Linked DNA regions of Homo sapiens: region 1 is linked to region 2. Evidence: fine-mapped expression QTL. Tissue or cell type: CD8 T cells. Region 2 holds a variant in brackets; the other region holds the start of a gene. All regions are shown on one strand. Distances are between the middles of the regions.

Region 1 (8,098 bases), 470 kb after region 2:
GGTCGAGGCTGCAGTGAGCTGTGATTACATCACTGCACTCCAGCCTGGGCAACAGAGTGAGAACCTATCTCAAAACAAAACAAAAAAAAGGACAATCTTTTGTTGACTCTTATATTGGCAATAATTACTAATACAGACGGTCCCCAATTTATGACAATTCAACCTATGATTTTTTTACTTTAATTGGTGGTGCAAAAGCAATACACATTCAGTAAAATCTGTACTTCAAGTACTCATACAACCATCCTGTTTTTCTTTCAATGTAGTATTCAATAAATTATGTGAGATATTCAACACTTTATTATAAAATAGGCTTTGCATTAGATGATTTTGCCGAACTGTCAGCTAATGTGAGTGTTCCGAGCATTTTTAAGGTAGGCTAGGCTATGATGTTTGGTAGGTTGGATGTATTAAATGCATTTTAGATTTATGGTATTTTCAACCTATAAGTTTATTTGAACATGACCCCATTATAAGTTGAGAAACATTTGTACACAGTGTGCATGAGAGTGTGGGGAAATAGATCCTGTCTTATGTTTGATGGGGGTATAAATTGGCCAAGCCTTTTTGGAGGACAGTTTGGTGGTATATCCATTAACTATATAAAATCTCACATCCTTCTTTTGGCAATATCAAATGTATAAAATCTCATACATTTAAGCAAATAATTATATTTATAGTAGAATATCCTAAAGAAATTCTTCTACCTGTTGGCAAAGCTTTATGTGCCAGACTGTTCATTGTAACCTTGCTTTATTAGCTCCGGATCCAGAACTCATAATATGCAGCAGTTAAAAAGAATGAAGCAGCTTTAAATGTACTGGTATGTAGAGCTCTTTGAGACATAATTTTAAATGAAAAAAAAGCAAGTTGCAAAACAGTATGTTAATTATGATCCTGGCCAGGCGTGGTGGCTCACACCTGTAATCCCAGCACTTTGAGAGGCCCAGGTGGTTGGATCACTTGAGGCCAGGAGTTTGAGACCAGCCTAGCCAACATGGTGAAACCCAGTCTCTACTAAAAATACAAACATTAGCTGGGCATGGTGGTGCGCACCTGTAATCCCAGCTACTAGGGAGGCTGAGGCATGAGAATCGCTTGAACCCGAGAGGTGGAGGTTGCGGTGAGCCAAGATCGCACCACTGCACTCCAGCCTGAGTGAAAGAGCAAGACTCCATATAAAAAAAAATCTCATTTATATATTTTAATAAGACATGTATGTGTATATCATGTATACAAAAGGTTAATACACCAAACTTAAAATGGAGAGGTAACTGTGATTTGGGTGAGGATAGGGGAGTGAAAGTGGTACTAGTGCTTTTTCTGGGTTTGACTATTCTTTTCTTTTCTTTTCTTTTCAGAGACAGGGTTTCACGCCATTGCCGGTCTGGAGAGCAGTGGTGCAATCATAGTTCACTGTAACCTTGAATTCCTAAGCTCAAACAATCTTCTTGCCAAGTAGCCTCCCAAGTAGCTAGGACCACAGGCATGCACCACTAAGCCCAGCTATTTTTTTTTTTTAATAGACAGGTTTCCCTATGTCGGGAAACCTATGTAGGGTGGTCTCAAACTCTTGGCCTCAAGTAATGCTCTTGCCTCAGACTCCCAAAGTATTGGGATTATAGGCGTGAGCCATCACACTTGGCCTTGGGTTTGAATTTTATACTAGAATTGTACTCTTGTGGGATTTGTATGTAAAGTAAACAGCAAATATTAAAACACCCCAATTATCTTTCCACTGGGATACACAGAGCTAACTCCATCAGCCACATTGTATAAATATAACATGAGTTATTTAATCTCTCCCCTATCAATAGCCATTTTATGTTGCGTCAGGCTTTTTTTTTTTTTTTTTTTTTTTTTGACAGAGTCTCACTCTGTCAGCCAGACTGGAGTGCAGTGGCGTGATCTAGGCTCACTGCAACCTCCATCCCTTGGGTTCAAGCCATTCTCCTGACTCAGCCTTGCAAGTAGCTGGGGTTATAAGCGCCTGCCACTGCGCCCGGCTAATTTTTGTATTTTTAATAGAAACGGGGTTTCACCACGTTGGCCAGGCTGGTCTTGAACTCCTGACCTCGTGATCCACCTGCTTCGGCCTCCCAAAGTGCTGGGATTACAGGTGTGAGCCACCGTGCCCGGCTGCGTCAGTTTTTTCAAACCTTACAAGCATTGCGAAAAAAAAAAATTCTAGTAAATATATCTTTGTGAAACTGTGTAGGCATATAGGTTGGCTAAATTCCAAGGAATAGAATTATTGGGTCAAAGAATTTGTGAAATATTATAGTTATCATTTAATAGAGTTTGCCAAATTGCCCTATATAAAAAGCTTGCATCAATATCTGCCTCCAACAGAGTAGAGGAGTGCCCATTTCTTGACAAACCAGTCAACAATATTATCAAGTTTCTAAACTTTGAGAAAATCATACTTGAAACATGGTAAGGCATAGTTGCTTTGATTTGCATTTCTTTGTTTGAGCATCTTTTCATATGTTTATTAGTAATCTATTTCTTTTCTGTGAACAAATCTGTTCATGTCTTTTGGCACATTTTTCTATTGGGTTGTTTATCATTTTACTAATGATCTGTAAGAGCTTTTAGATTATTACAAGTTAGCCTTTTGACAGTCAATGTTTATGGTTTTTTTTTTTTACTTTACCAAAGTTTAAAATTTGTATGCAATTAATTTATCAATATTTTCCTTTGGTGGAGAAAGTAAGTTCGTCACTTTCAATTGAGTTCTGAAAAGCCATTAGTAAGATTGTAAGGCACTAGGACTTCCTTTCTTGGCTCCTGAAAGGGCCTCCTCCACACAGGGGCCCCTCACAGTGGAGCCCCTCCCTCTGGGGTGTCCTATTTCAATGTTCTAAGAAAGAGGCTGCCTGGAGGGTCTATATTTGGAGTATGACTCCTCAGCGGGGACAGGTGGATGCGTGGGGACTAACTTCTGCATATTTGGTCCCTGAGTTTTGGGATTATTCTGAGGGGCTTGTATGGGAGGTGCAGTGAAGTTGTAACACAAGGCAGGACATGAAAAAACTTCTTTTTCTTGGCAATTGCTTGGGATCCTGTACATTGCCCTTCCACTTGTGAGGGAAAAAAATAATGACACGGACATCAGGTGTGTTGCAGTGATTCACAGTCATCCACAGACCCTCACCACCATCTCCACTGGAAAATATTGAACACTCGCCACTGCTAGGGTAGTATGTAGTACATGAATGGCAGACACCGGCGAGATCTCAAGTGTTACGACGGATGAAAATTCCACCTGTTAAGTCTCCTTTCCATCCAAGCTCTAGCAGTTGGTTGTTCCATGGGTGTGGTGAGGCTGATCTGATTACATGCTTATGTAAAATCCAAATAAAGCCCCTTGAATGGAAAACAGGTTAATTTGGGAAGTCACTAGTAAAGCAGGTTAATTTGGTAAGTCACTAGTAAAGCACTAGGCTCATCAGGAGTTGGGTCTTAAATATATCCTCTAGAAGTCTTCTCTGAAGAAGGTCTTAGACACCTGAAAAAAGATGCTGAGTTCAGCCAGAACTTCAAAAGTTACAAATCACCTGTGTAAAATTGTCAATATTAGAAAACGAAATGTCTTTCCAAAGATTAACTTATAGATCATATTGAATACGTGCTGGTTTTGTTTAGGACAATTTTGTATTTAAAATGTCAAGAATTACTAGTCAATTTTGAAAGCTGTAAAATAGTTTGCAGTAACAGAAGACATTTTAAAATGTGGCACAAAATAATGTAAACAAAAGAATGAGTCTTTTGTTATTTTTACACCCTGAATATTTTTTGTGTCAAATGAAAATGGCTATACTGTATTTTCTGATTACAATATTAGAAAAGAATGTCATATTAAAAGAAAAAAAAGGAACACGAAAAAGAAAATTAAAGCTCTACTTGCACCTTCTGCTTTCCTTCCTGATACCCCCTTCCACAGCCCATTTGGTGCAGGCATTGTACTTAGAGAGGGCAGGTCGTGTAGGGGGCGGGTGGGGAGTGCTGGTCTTATAGTCTAAGAGAGAAATAAGTGATTACTCAAAGAAGAAACATAAAAGGCCACAGCCAAGGGCCGGGAGTGGGTAGGGGGATGCAGACCCTCCCCTGTAACTGAAGATGGGTAAACTCCAACCACAAGGCGATGATGCCACTTGTGGGCCCTCAGATTGGAGAGGACGGAGATGAGTGACAACGCGTGCGCACTGGGGCACCGAGCACAGACCAGAGAACGGGGATGTCTGTGCGTGCGGAGTGGAGGAGGGGGGAGTTCCTGGTGACTGGCCGCCGGCCCTTGGTGGGTGGTAGGGGGTGCTGGGGAGGAGGGCGAGCTCGGCGGTGACGCGCGGTCCTCACGTGACCCGGAGCTGCAGAGCTACGCAGCCTTCGTTGCAGTCGTCACTCGCATCTGGCTACCAGCTCCCCGCTGCCCTGCGCTCGGCGGGCTGGCATCGGGCCCGGGGAAAGCGGAGCAGGTAAGGGCCCTGGGGCCCGCGCGCCCTGGCCAGGCCGGCAGAAGCTCACTGACCCCGGCAGCGGTTACGGGGCTTGAGGGGGCGGTGGTCTATGCTGCCTCAAGTTCGAGGAGCCTTTGCCTCTGATTCTCCCTAGCCCCCTTGCCCCCGCCTACATCTGTGCAGGCGAACCGTGGGCTTTGATTTGTGGGGAGATTGTCTCTGCCAGAGGGAAATACAGAGATTGAGATGCCCATCGCTCTAATCACTGGCCACACATGTCCGCTCGCTTCCTGCTCAATTTAGTGGAAGGGATGCGCCACGGTGGCGTTTGCAGAGAAAATGGTGGGCCTTAGAGACTGGACGGTGGGGTTGGTAAGGGTGGTGTCTCAGACTGTGGGGAGGGACGTTTGATAACCAGGTTCCTGAACCCGGAAAGGCGAGTATTGGGATCTATGTCCTGGGCTCTAGACCAACACTAAGTGGTTTTACTCTCTCCTGTCTGTCGGACAGTAGTTCGGTGTAGCACTGTTTGCGGCGAGGAGAAAGGAAGGAGAGGAGAAAACTGCACTGGATCAAGGAGGTTAGTGTGAGTACAGACACTATCTAAACCATTGGAGTTCCATATGAATTCTATGACAGGAACTTAGGTGCGGCTGTCTGAATGGGATGTGGGGTGGGGCTAGCTTGGGGACTTTCCCTAAACTGCATTTTACTTACCAAGCTTAGGACTTTTAAATTGTATGTTGAAGACCAATGAAGACAGCAAACTTTTCTACAGATGCTTTTATTTGCATTTCAGATAATATTGAGAAAAAGATAAATTATATTAAAGAATATTATTATTATTATTATTTTTTAGATAGCCTTTGGTGGGGAAGGATAGTGATTTTGTAGAAGCAAAAGGCTTCCCCTATAGCTTTTCTCTTCTGCTGGAGACTCCTAGAGATAGGTTGAAAGGGACGTGGACAGCAGTAGGTTGTGGTTCTAGAGTATGGGATCTGGGGTCTCCCATCTCTCCTGCCATCCTTCAGTTTTCCAGATCCCTCTACCTACCTGACCATCTTGGTGAAGGAAATGGTGGGCTTTTGGGGAAATCCCTAGAACCCTACAGGTGGTTTTAAAATAATTTGCCTTGTTGGGCCTAGTAGCTCTTGCCTGTAATCCCAGCACTTTGAGAGACCCAAGCAAGAGGATTGCTTGAGCTCAGGTGTTCAAGACCAGCCTGGGCAACATAGCGAGACTTCATCTCTACATATAATTTAAAAATTAGCTGGGTATGGTGGCACAGTCTGTAGTTCCTGCTACTTGGGAGGCTGAGGTGGGAGGATCTTTTGAGCCTGGGAGGTCGAGACTGTGGTGAGCCATGATCTTGCCACTGCAATCCAGCCTGGGTGACAGAGTGGGGCTCTGTCTCAAAATAAATAAAAAATAAAATAAATAAAATAAAATAAAATAAAATAAAATAACGTGCCTCTGTCTGTTGCCTTTTACTTTTCCTGCCTCCCTTTTCCATCCTTCCCATTTCAGTGCTGGGGAAGCCCCAGGCTTTTTTTTTTTTTTTTTTCTGCCAGCAAATGGGTCTCTAAATCCAGGCAGGCAGGTACAGGGACCTATGTCTTAGATGGTAAGTGTCACAAGTACTTAACATCCACTCTCTTCTTTTTCTCCATCTGTTCCAAGGTCTTCCCATAGGCCTGCAGTAGGGCTGTTTACCATTGGAAGCAAGGGAAAGAGGAGGAGATCAATCTAGAAGCATGGAGGTTGGTGTGAAGTGGGGGTAGTCTCTGGGGATGACAAGAGAGGGTGGGCATAGGAGGTGGGTGAGATTTAAGAGGGTCTCAGTGGAGTGCTGGATTGCCACAGTGCTGCCATGCCTCCTGTGGATTTCAGTGCAGGAAATGATAGGAATATGGGGGTAAGGGTGGGCTGGAGTATGACTGGGGGAAGACTTGATGGGGGGACCATGAGATGGTACACATTAGTATATAGAACCTGGGCTCTGGCGAGGCAGACATTGGGGTCAGGGATCAGGTTGCTTGTCTGTTCTACCAGGGACTCGGTTTCCATTACCTACTGTTTGTTTACTTGTCCATAGATCTGCCTGCATGTCTGCTGCAGGGCTTAAGATCACTGGAAGCAAAGAAACAAAGAGGAGATTGCTCCTGATCAGTATAGACTGGTAAGAGTGTGGGGACTGCCTGGGTAGACCTCTAGAGTGGGTTGGTGGAGACCAGTGTGCATCCAGTAAGGACCAGTGACCAGTCTGGAGGATGAGGATCCTCAGTCTCTCCTTTTCCAGCCACCTTTCCCACCATCCCTGTCATTTACTCCATACCCTCACCTTAATTCTGGTACAGGGAAAAGAGTGTGACAGTGTCTTAGGGAGTGGGGTGGACTGAGAAACGTAGAAAGGTAGTTTGCTAATAATATGTCTGTCCCATCAAGAACAAACTCTCTACTCCCATCTGTCCCTCCATCTGTCTGTCTGTCTCTAGGTCCAGAGATCTCATGAATTTATGTATCTACTTTAGGGTGTACTGCCAAGAGAAGCAAGAGGAGAGGAGGGAACTGCCTCGGATCATTACAGGTTGGTATGAGGGTGGGGCCCTGTAGACAGGTGACCAGAGTAGGTCCAGTAGAAATCAAAGTCTGGGACTTCTTGGTTGCTCCCATTTATCGTCAGACCTCCTACCATCCTTTCCACTGTTCATTTGGTGTATAGAAATGTGTATAGAAGTATCTTGGAAGAAAATTATTGGGCATTGGGGAAGGTGGAGAGAAGATGAAATAAGAGGAATGGAGAGGCTGCTAATCATCCTCTCTTCCACCAAGCACATGGTTCTACCATTTTCTGTTCCTCTGTGTATCTATCTGTATGATGCAACAAAATCAGAAGAGAAATTTTAGTCCATTTCCTTCCTCCACTTCTAGGTCCACCTCCAGAGGCAGCTGTAGTGGCCTTTGAGTGGCTGAAGACCAGCACCCTCACAGGCCTACACCCACAACTACCACTCTCTTTACCCCAGCCCGAGTGCGCTCTACCATACCTTGTTCGTGCTTTTAGCAGGGGTGATTACATGGGCCGCATTCAGGAAGTGGGCTGGGTGACTGCAGGACTGGTGATCTGGGCTGGCACCTGCTACTACATTTACAAATTTACCAAGGGAAGAGCCCAGAGTGTGAGGACTCTTGCCAGAAATGGATCCACAGTTAAGATGGAGACTGTGGTTGGGGTACAGAGCCAGACCTTGGCCATAAATGAAGCAGAGATTAAGACTAAACCCCAAGTCGAGATTGGAGCAGAAACTGGAGCAAGAAGTGGGCCTAGGGCTGAAGTAGAGACCAAGGCCACTGCTATAGCCATACACAGAGCCAACTCTCAGGCCAAGGCAATGGTTGGGGCAGAGCCAGAGACTCAATCTGAGTCCAAAGTGGTGGCTGGAACACTGGTCATGACAGAGGCAGTGACTCTGACTGAGGTCAAGGCCAAAGCCAGGGAAGTGGCCATGAAAGAAGCAGTGACCCAAACTGATGCTGAGGCTGGCAAAATAGTTAAGAAAGAAGCAGTGACACAGACCAAGGCTAAAGCTTGGGCGCTGGTTGCCAAGACAGAGGCCAAGAGAGAAGCAATGACCCAG
Region 2 (8,096 bases):
TTGGTATAAACTCCTTATCTTTTTGTGAAACATCAGGCAGTCTCCAGACCACACCTCAAGAAGCACTGAACTACATTAGATGACATTAGTGAAGATTAGTGAGGTACTGCTAATTTTCTTAGTTGAACTCATAATATAATGGTTATGTAGAAAAATGTCCTTATGCTTAGAAGATAGATGTATAAGGTATACATGTATCTGTATACCTTATACAGACAGATGAGGGATCTAAAGATGAAGAGTTGGCCGGGCGCAGTGGCTCATGCCTGTAATCTCAGCACTTTGGGAGGCTAAGGTGGGAGGATTGCTTGAGTCCAGGAGTTTGAGACCAGCCTTAGCAAGATGGTGAGATCTTATCACTACAAAAAAATTAAAAAATAGCCAGGCATGGTAGCAAACACGTGTAGTCCCAGCTACTTGGGAGGCTGCGATAGGAGGATCCCTTGAGCCCCGGAGTTCAAGGTGGCAGTGAGCCATGATGGCGCTACTGCACTACAGCCTGGGTAACAAAGCAAGACTCTGTCTTAAAAAAAAAAATTATGACTCACTAAAGACTCAGATGATTTTTAGCATTTTTAAAGCAATAAAGTACATTTTAATTAAGGTACATACACTGGTTTTTTAGATATAATGATATTGCACACTTAATAGACTATAGTATAAGCAATGTTTATATGCACTGGGAAACCATAAAATTCACATTACTTGCTTTATTGAGATATTCACTTTGTTGTGGCAATCTGGAACCAAACCTGCAATATCTCTGAGGGCATAACTATAAACAAGTAACAAAATTATGAGGAAGTTGATTTTCCATAGCCAATCCTGTATTTATTCATTAAATATTCCTTGAAGGAGGAATATTTAAGTTAAAAACAGAAAGGTAAATAGAGTAAACCAGAAGAGTTAGGGAAAAGAATATTCCAAGCTGAGGAAACAGAATGTAAATAGGACCAAAAGGGAAGAACTTTCTCCTTTTCAGGGAAAGGAATCCAATATATCTAGAGAAATGGAGTTCTTCAGATTATGAAGTGGCTTTTGAGCTTCATCAATAATGTTGGACTTTATTTTAAAAGCAATAGGAAGTTGGCTGGGTGCAGTGGCTCATGCCTGTAATCCCAGCACTTTGGGAGGCCAAGGTGGGTGGATCATTTGAGGTCAGCGGTTCGAGACCAGCCTGGTCAACAAGATGAAACCCTGCCTCTACTAAAAATACAAAAAGAAAAAAAATGAGCCAGGCATGATGGCACACGCCTGTTATCCCAGCTACTTGGGAGGCTGAGGCACGAGAATTGCTTGAACCCAGGAGGCAGAGGTTGCAGTGAGCTGAGATTGCACCACTGCACTCCAGCCTGGGTGACAGAATGAGACTGTGTCTCAAAATTACTAACTAAATAAAATAAAATAAAAGCAACAGGAAGCCAATGACAGATTTTAAGTAATGGAGAAACATGAGATTTGCATTTTTTCTTAAGAGGGTCTTGCTATATTGTCCAGGCTGGTCTTGAACTCCTGGGTTCAAGCAATCCTCCAGCCTCAGCCTCCCCACTAGCTGGTATTTCAGGTGTGTGCCATGGTGCTAGAATGAACTGGGGCAAGAGTGAATACAAGCAGCAACAGTTGTGAAGATGACTATTGCAGCAATAACCTGGAGAGAGATGATGGAAGCCTGCAGGGATGGCGACTTTGTGAAAAATTGGATGAGGCCAATAGTACAGGAGAAGGACTCAAAAATCATTCCCAGACTCTGGCTTGGGTGACTGAGTAAACTGTTATATTCATTAAGACTGAGAATAGAGGAGGAAGAACATGTTTAAGGGAAAGATGGAAAGCATTCAACATTAGATATATTGAGTTTGAAGAATCTAGAAGATATCCAAGAGGAAGTTACCTTATAGGTAGTTGGATACAGGAATGAAAAGGAACTCTGTTTTCTGGCTTAAGTGATTGATATAGATGGTATTGCCATTTGCTGATACAGGGAATAAATGGAAAAAAATTGCTTTTTTGAAAATTTCATTATAAAAATAATATAACCCATCACATAAAATTTAAAAATAAGGAAAGGAAAAAATTTATGCAACTACCATAAACCAACACTTTCGGAGGCCGAGGCAGGTGGATCACCTGAGGTCAAGAGTTCGAGACCAGTCTGGCCAACATGGTGAAACCCCATCTCTACTAAAAATACAAAAATTAGCTGGGTGTGGTGGCAGGCGCCTGTAATCCCAGCTACTCAGGAGGCTGAGGCAGGGGAATCGCTTGAACCGGGAGGCGGAGAGGTTGCAGTGAGCTGAGATCACGCCACTGTACTCCATCCTGGGTGACAGAGTGAGGATCCATCTCAAAAAAATAAAAATAAAATAAATCTTTCTGGCTGCTCCTCCTTGGGCTAGATAATTCTTATAGATAGCAAGGGTTCAGCTGGAAGATTTCTTTGATATACAAACTAACCAATTCAGAGCTATATTCCCTCTATCTGGCATGGACACCCCAAGAGACAACATTCCAGTGTCCTAATCACCCCATGGCCAGGTACCAGACAACTAGGGAGCACCCCTATACCTTATTCAAAGTAGCCAATCCTAAACTGTTCACTCAGCCCTGCATTGCCTTTCCCAAAGAAACTCAAGTAACGGCAGTGGCCTAAACCTTCCCCTCTTCTGTCTTCTGCCTCCTGCCCACCCTGGTGTCTTTCCCATGTAGTCCTATGTGGCATAATATGTCTCCTGTCTCTAGGACCTGTAAGCATAATAGACTTTGTTTTCCTGAGCCTCTCCTGTGTCTCCTCTTGTGGCTATACCTGACCCACCATCTAAAAAAAGAATAGAAAACATTATATAGTAGCTTTAACAGCCATATTTTTCTAAGAAGGAGGCTTCTCTAGAATGTTTGATTGAGAAGAATTAAAAATACCAGTTAACCTGATATCACTTTGTGAATCAGACAACACTTACTAAGTTACACATCCTTAGGCCTTTAGATTATCAAAACATAATCTAAATTGTTGGGCAAGTACCCAAGAACAACTCCAGAGTTGATGAAATCATGGACTAGAGAATGTTAAATACAGTCAGTTTTCAATATCCAGTTTATTATGTTATACTAGATTTTGGAGCTTTTTGCCTCCACACTACACAGCACAATTATAGGTATTCAGTCTCTCTGAAAATCTCCTTTCCCTTAGGGTCTCTCCAATAACCAATTCTTCCTCCACGGGTGAGAGTTAATTGGTGCTATTGCTCCTAGGGATAACTACATTTT[CTTTT/C]TTTTTTTTTTTTTGAGATGGTGTCTCACTCTGTCACCCAGGCTGGAGTGCAGTGGCACAATTTCAGCTCACTGCAACCTCCACCTCCCAGGTTCAAGCAATTATCCTGCCTCAGCCTCCCGAGTAGCTGGGATTACAGGTGCCCACCACCAGGGAAAACTACATTTTCAAGGGGCATTCGAGATGCCTTAAAACCAAGAAAACCCAAAAGAATTAATCTCATCTGATGATCACTCAGTCACCCTGTATTCACTTCATGGCTTACCCTGCTTTTAAAAAACCTCGACTGTTTCTGGTTTTAATCCTTAACTACCTCAAGAATCCAGAAGTCTTAGAAATATCTAAAAATTGTAGCATCTCTGAGCAAATGCACAGGCTCCAGTCAATGTAAAATTATTACCAGCTGCTTAAAAAAGGTCATTTGTCCACACCATAAGCAGAAACGGAGGAGACAAGACTATAAACTAGAACCAAGGCTGACAGCAACAGGAAGAAACAGTCCAGATCCAGGAGTGGGGAGTGGTCAAACCCAAGCAAACGGGCATGATTGAAAGGGAATCTGAAATCTAAGGTTAAGTCAGCCGCGGCGGGGTGTGGTGGCTCACGCCTATAATCCCAGCACTTTGAGAGGCCGAGGCGGGTGGATCACTTGAGGTCAGGAGTTTGAGACCAGCCTGGCCAACATGGTGAAACCCTGTCTCTACCAAAAATACAAAAATTAGCCGGGCATGGTGGCACGCACCTTTAATCCTAGCTACTGGGGAAGCTGAGGCACGAGAATCACTTGAACCCGGGAGGCGGAGGTTGCAGTGAGCTGAGATCACGCCACGACACTCCAGCCTGGGCAAGAGTGAGACTCTATCTCAAAAAAAAAATCTGCCTCAGACCAGAGGCCTAATAGATTCTTCCTATTCACAAACCAAAGATTGGTTTCCACTGTAATGCTCCCAGGGTCTGCAATGTAGCAATATGCCAAACCTGAAAGTTTCTGAAACTTCAGCCTTAACAAATAGCCTGCTGTCTTCTAGGAGGCTGCTTATCGAGTAAAGAGGAGCACCAGCTCACAATGTGGGGTGTGAGGGAACAAATCCACAGGTACAGCTTGCTGCAGGACAAAGGGCTCGCCTAAGAGCTTCTTAGCAGGGTCTGGAGGACAGCACAGCCTGTAGAAACAGAACATAGCATCAGTTCCCAGGAATAAAAGGAAGAACCCACAGGAATACAATTGCCTAAAATAGAGGCCCTTCCACTGTGTTCCCACAGGCCCCCTGTGTTTCTCTTATACAGCATTTATCTTATTTAATATAATCGTTTTTCTTCACCATCTTCCTTACTGAATTTTAATCTTTTTAAGGGTAGAAATGAAGTAAACACTGCTTAATATTCATCTCTGGGTTCCCAGTATGTGGCACAGAATAAGGGTTCAATACATATTTGGTAAATGGAGCTGAAGAGCCTGTATGTTTATAAGGCCTTAAGATACATAACCACCAAACTGTTCTAAAAAGGGTTGTACCAATTTATATCCCAACCAGCAAAGTAGAAGAGTATTTGTTTGCCTGGGTAATATTCAATACAGTCATGCATCACTTAACGATGGGGGTACATTCTGAAAATTGCATTGTTAGGCAATTTCTTCACTGTGTGAACATAATAGAGCATACTTACAAATATCTAGATGACAGAGCCTACTACACATCTAGGCTCTATGCTATAGCCTATTTCTCCTCAGCTACAAATCTGTACAGCATGTTACTGTACTGAATACTGTAGACAACTGTAACACAGTGGTAAGTATTTATATATCTAAACATTAAAAAGTACTGTAAAAATATAGTAGAAAAACTGGTCAACCTGGACAGCATAGTGAGACCCCATCTCTACAAAATTCTAATTTTAATTTTTAACTGATTTTAAAATTAGTTGGGTGTGGTAGTACATGCCTGTACTTCTAGCTACTCTGGGGGCTGAGGCCAGAGAATCACTTGAAACCAGGAGTTCAATACCAACCTGGGCAGCATAGCGAGACTCTGTCGTTACCAAAAAATAAAAAATAAATAAAATAAGGTCCGGGCATGGTGGCTCATGCCTGAAATCCCAGCACTTTGGGAGGCTGAGGTGAGAGGATTGCTTGAGCTCAGAAGTTCGAGACCAGCCGGGGCCACATGACAAAACCCTGTCTCTACAAAAAACACAAAAACTAGCCGGGCATGGTGGCTCGCACCTGTAGTGCCAGCTACTCAGGAGGCTGAGGCGGGAGGATGTCTTGAGCCCAGGAGATAAAGGTTGCAGTGAGCTGAGATCACACCACTATACTCTAGCCTGGGACAGGATCATCAATATCACTGTTTTGCACCTCCAAATCTTGTCCCACTAGAAGGTCTTCAGGGGCAATAACATACATGGAGCTGTCATCTCCTATGATAACAATGCCTTCTTCTGGAATACCTCCTGAAGGATCTGCCTGAGGCTGTTTTACAGTTAACTTTTAAAACATAAGTAGAAGGAGTATCTGCTAAAATAATACAAGTATAGTATAGAAAGTATATAAACCAGTAACACAGTCATTTTATTATCCAGTATTATGTACTATAGATAACTATATGTACTTAATTTTATAAGTGGTGATGCTGGTGTAAACAAACCTACTGACAGCACAGTAAGTTTGTTTACACCAGCATGACCACAAACATGTAAGTAACCCATGTGCTGAAATGTTACAACAGCTATGATGTCACTAGGCCATAGGAATTTTTCAGCTCCATTATAATTTTTTTTTCATTTATTATTATTATACTTTAAGTTTTAGGGTACATGTGCACAATGTGCAGGTTAGTTACATATGTATACATGTGCCATGCTGGTGCGCTGCCCCCACTAACTCATCATCTAGCATTAGGTATATCTCCCAATGCTATCCCTCCCCCCTCCCCCCAACCCACAACAGTCCCCAGAGTGTGATGGTCCCCTTCCTGTGTCCATGTGTTCTCATTGTTCAGTTCCCACCTATGAGTGAGAATATGCGGTGTTTGGTTTTTTGTTCTTGCGATAGTTTACTGAGAATGATGATAAATCATGCTGCTATAAAGACACATGCACACGTATGTTTATTGCGGCATTATTCACAATAGCAAAGACTTGGAACCAACCCAAATGTCCAACAATGATAGACTGGATTAAGAAAATGTGGCACATATACACCATGGAATACTACGCAGCCATAAAAAATGATGAGTTCATGTCCTTTGTAGGGACATGGATGAAATTGGAAATTTATTATTTTTTTTTTTTTGAGACGGAGTCTCACTCTATCACCCAGGCTGGAGTGCAGTGGCACAGTCTTGTCTCACTGCAACCTCCGCCTCCTGGATTCAAGCGATTTTCCTGCCTCAGTCTCCCAAATAGCTGGGATTACAGGCACACACCACCACCACACCCAGCTAATTTTTCTATTTTAGTAGAGACGGGCTTTTACCACGTTGGCCAGGCTGGTCTCAAACTCCTGACCTCAAGTGATCCGCCTACCTCAGCCTCCCGAAGTGCTGGGATTACAGGCGTGAGCCACCGCGCCCGGTCAGCTCCATTATAATCTTATGGCACCAACATCATATATTCAGTCCATTGTTGACTGAAATGTTATTATGCGACACAAGACTGTAGTTTAAATAGCATTATCCCATTATAATCAAATACATGACAAAAATATTCACTATCACATCTACAATGGAACATTTTCTTATGCAATATAATAAGCAAAAGGAAAAAATGAGTATTAGAAGGAGAGGGACAGAATTATTTTTACATGGTGATCATATGGTCAGCTACCACAACAATGTGAGAATCAACTAAAAAATGAATAAAACTAATAATAGAGTAAGGTAGCTGTATACCAGATTGGCAATAACTAATGAGAAAATGTCATGAAGGCTGGGTGCGGTGGCTCACACCTGTAATCCTAATACTTTGGGAGGCCAAGGCGGTTGGATCACCTGAGGTCAGGAGTTCAAGACCAGCCTGGCCAACATGGTGAAACCCTGTCTGTACTAAAAATACAAAAATTGGCTGGGCGTGGTGGTGCATACCTGTAATACCAGCTACTCAGGAGGCTGAGGCAGGAGAATCGCTTGAACCTGGGAGGTGGAGGCTGTAGTGAGCCGAGACCATGCCACTGCACTCCAGCAAGATGAGACTCCGTCTCAAAAAAAAAAAAAAAAAAAGAAAAGAAAATGTCATGAAAAGATCCCATTCATAATAAAAAGCTGGCCAGGCACAATGGCTCATGCCTATAAGCCCAACACTTTGGGAGGCTGAGGTGGGAGGATAGCTTGAGCCCCAGAGTTTAAGACCAGCTGGAATAACATAGTAAGACCCTGACTCTACAAAATTTTAAAAATTAGCCTGGTGTGGTGACTCACGCCTATAGTCCCAGCTACTTAGGAGGCTGAGGTGGAAGGATTGCTTGAGCCCAGGAGGTCAAGGCTGCAGGGAACTGTGATTGCACCACTGTACTCCAGCCTGGGCAACAGAGCAAGACTCCATCCCCCGCAAAAAAAAGCATCAAATAGAATAGTGCTTATAGTATGCTTCTACTTGTTTGATAAAAAAGGAGAGCTAGTATGTACACACGTACGTGTGCACACACATGCACTCATGCTTGTAGTGTCACAGAATATCTCTGGTAGTCCACACAAGAAACTGCTCAGAGTGGTGACATCTGAAAGACTAGGGGTCAGGAGTAAGAAACTCATTTTTACCCTATATTCTTTTGTATTATTTGAATTTTCTTTCTCTCTCTTTTTTTTACTGTTTTAGAGATGGGGTCTTACTC

The links. PIP is the estimated chance that this variant, and not a neighbour inherited with it, causes the effect.
Region 1: it holds the start of ARMCX4, and the variant in region 2 is fine-mapped to the expression of ARMCX4 in CD8 T cells (Kasela 2017, PIP 0.95).

Annotation. Positions count from the first base shown.
Region 1 is chrX:101,481,053-101,489,150 of GRCh38, forward strand. It overlaps ARMCX4 (armadillo repeat containing X-linked 4), which reads left to right and starts at 4,404. Exons shown (of 6, transcript NM_001256155.3): 1 at 4,404-4,478; 2 at 4,971-5,040; 3 at 6,141-6,220; 4 at 6,556-6,639; 5 at 6,992-7,047; 6 at 7,392-8,098. The coding sequence starts at 7,538.
Region 2 is chrX:101,006,277-101,014,372 of GRCh38, forward strand. It overlaps TRMT2B (tRNA methyltransferase 2B), which reads right to left. Exons shown (of 14, transcript NM_024917.6): 14 at 3,074-4,431. The coding sequence ends at 4,305. Among named protein-coding and RNA genes, the nearest start is that of ARL13A, 41 kb to the left of the region's middle. The variant CTTTT/C (reference allele first, on the strand shown) is at 3,265.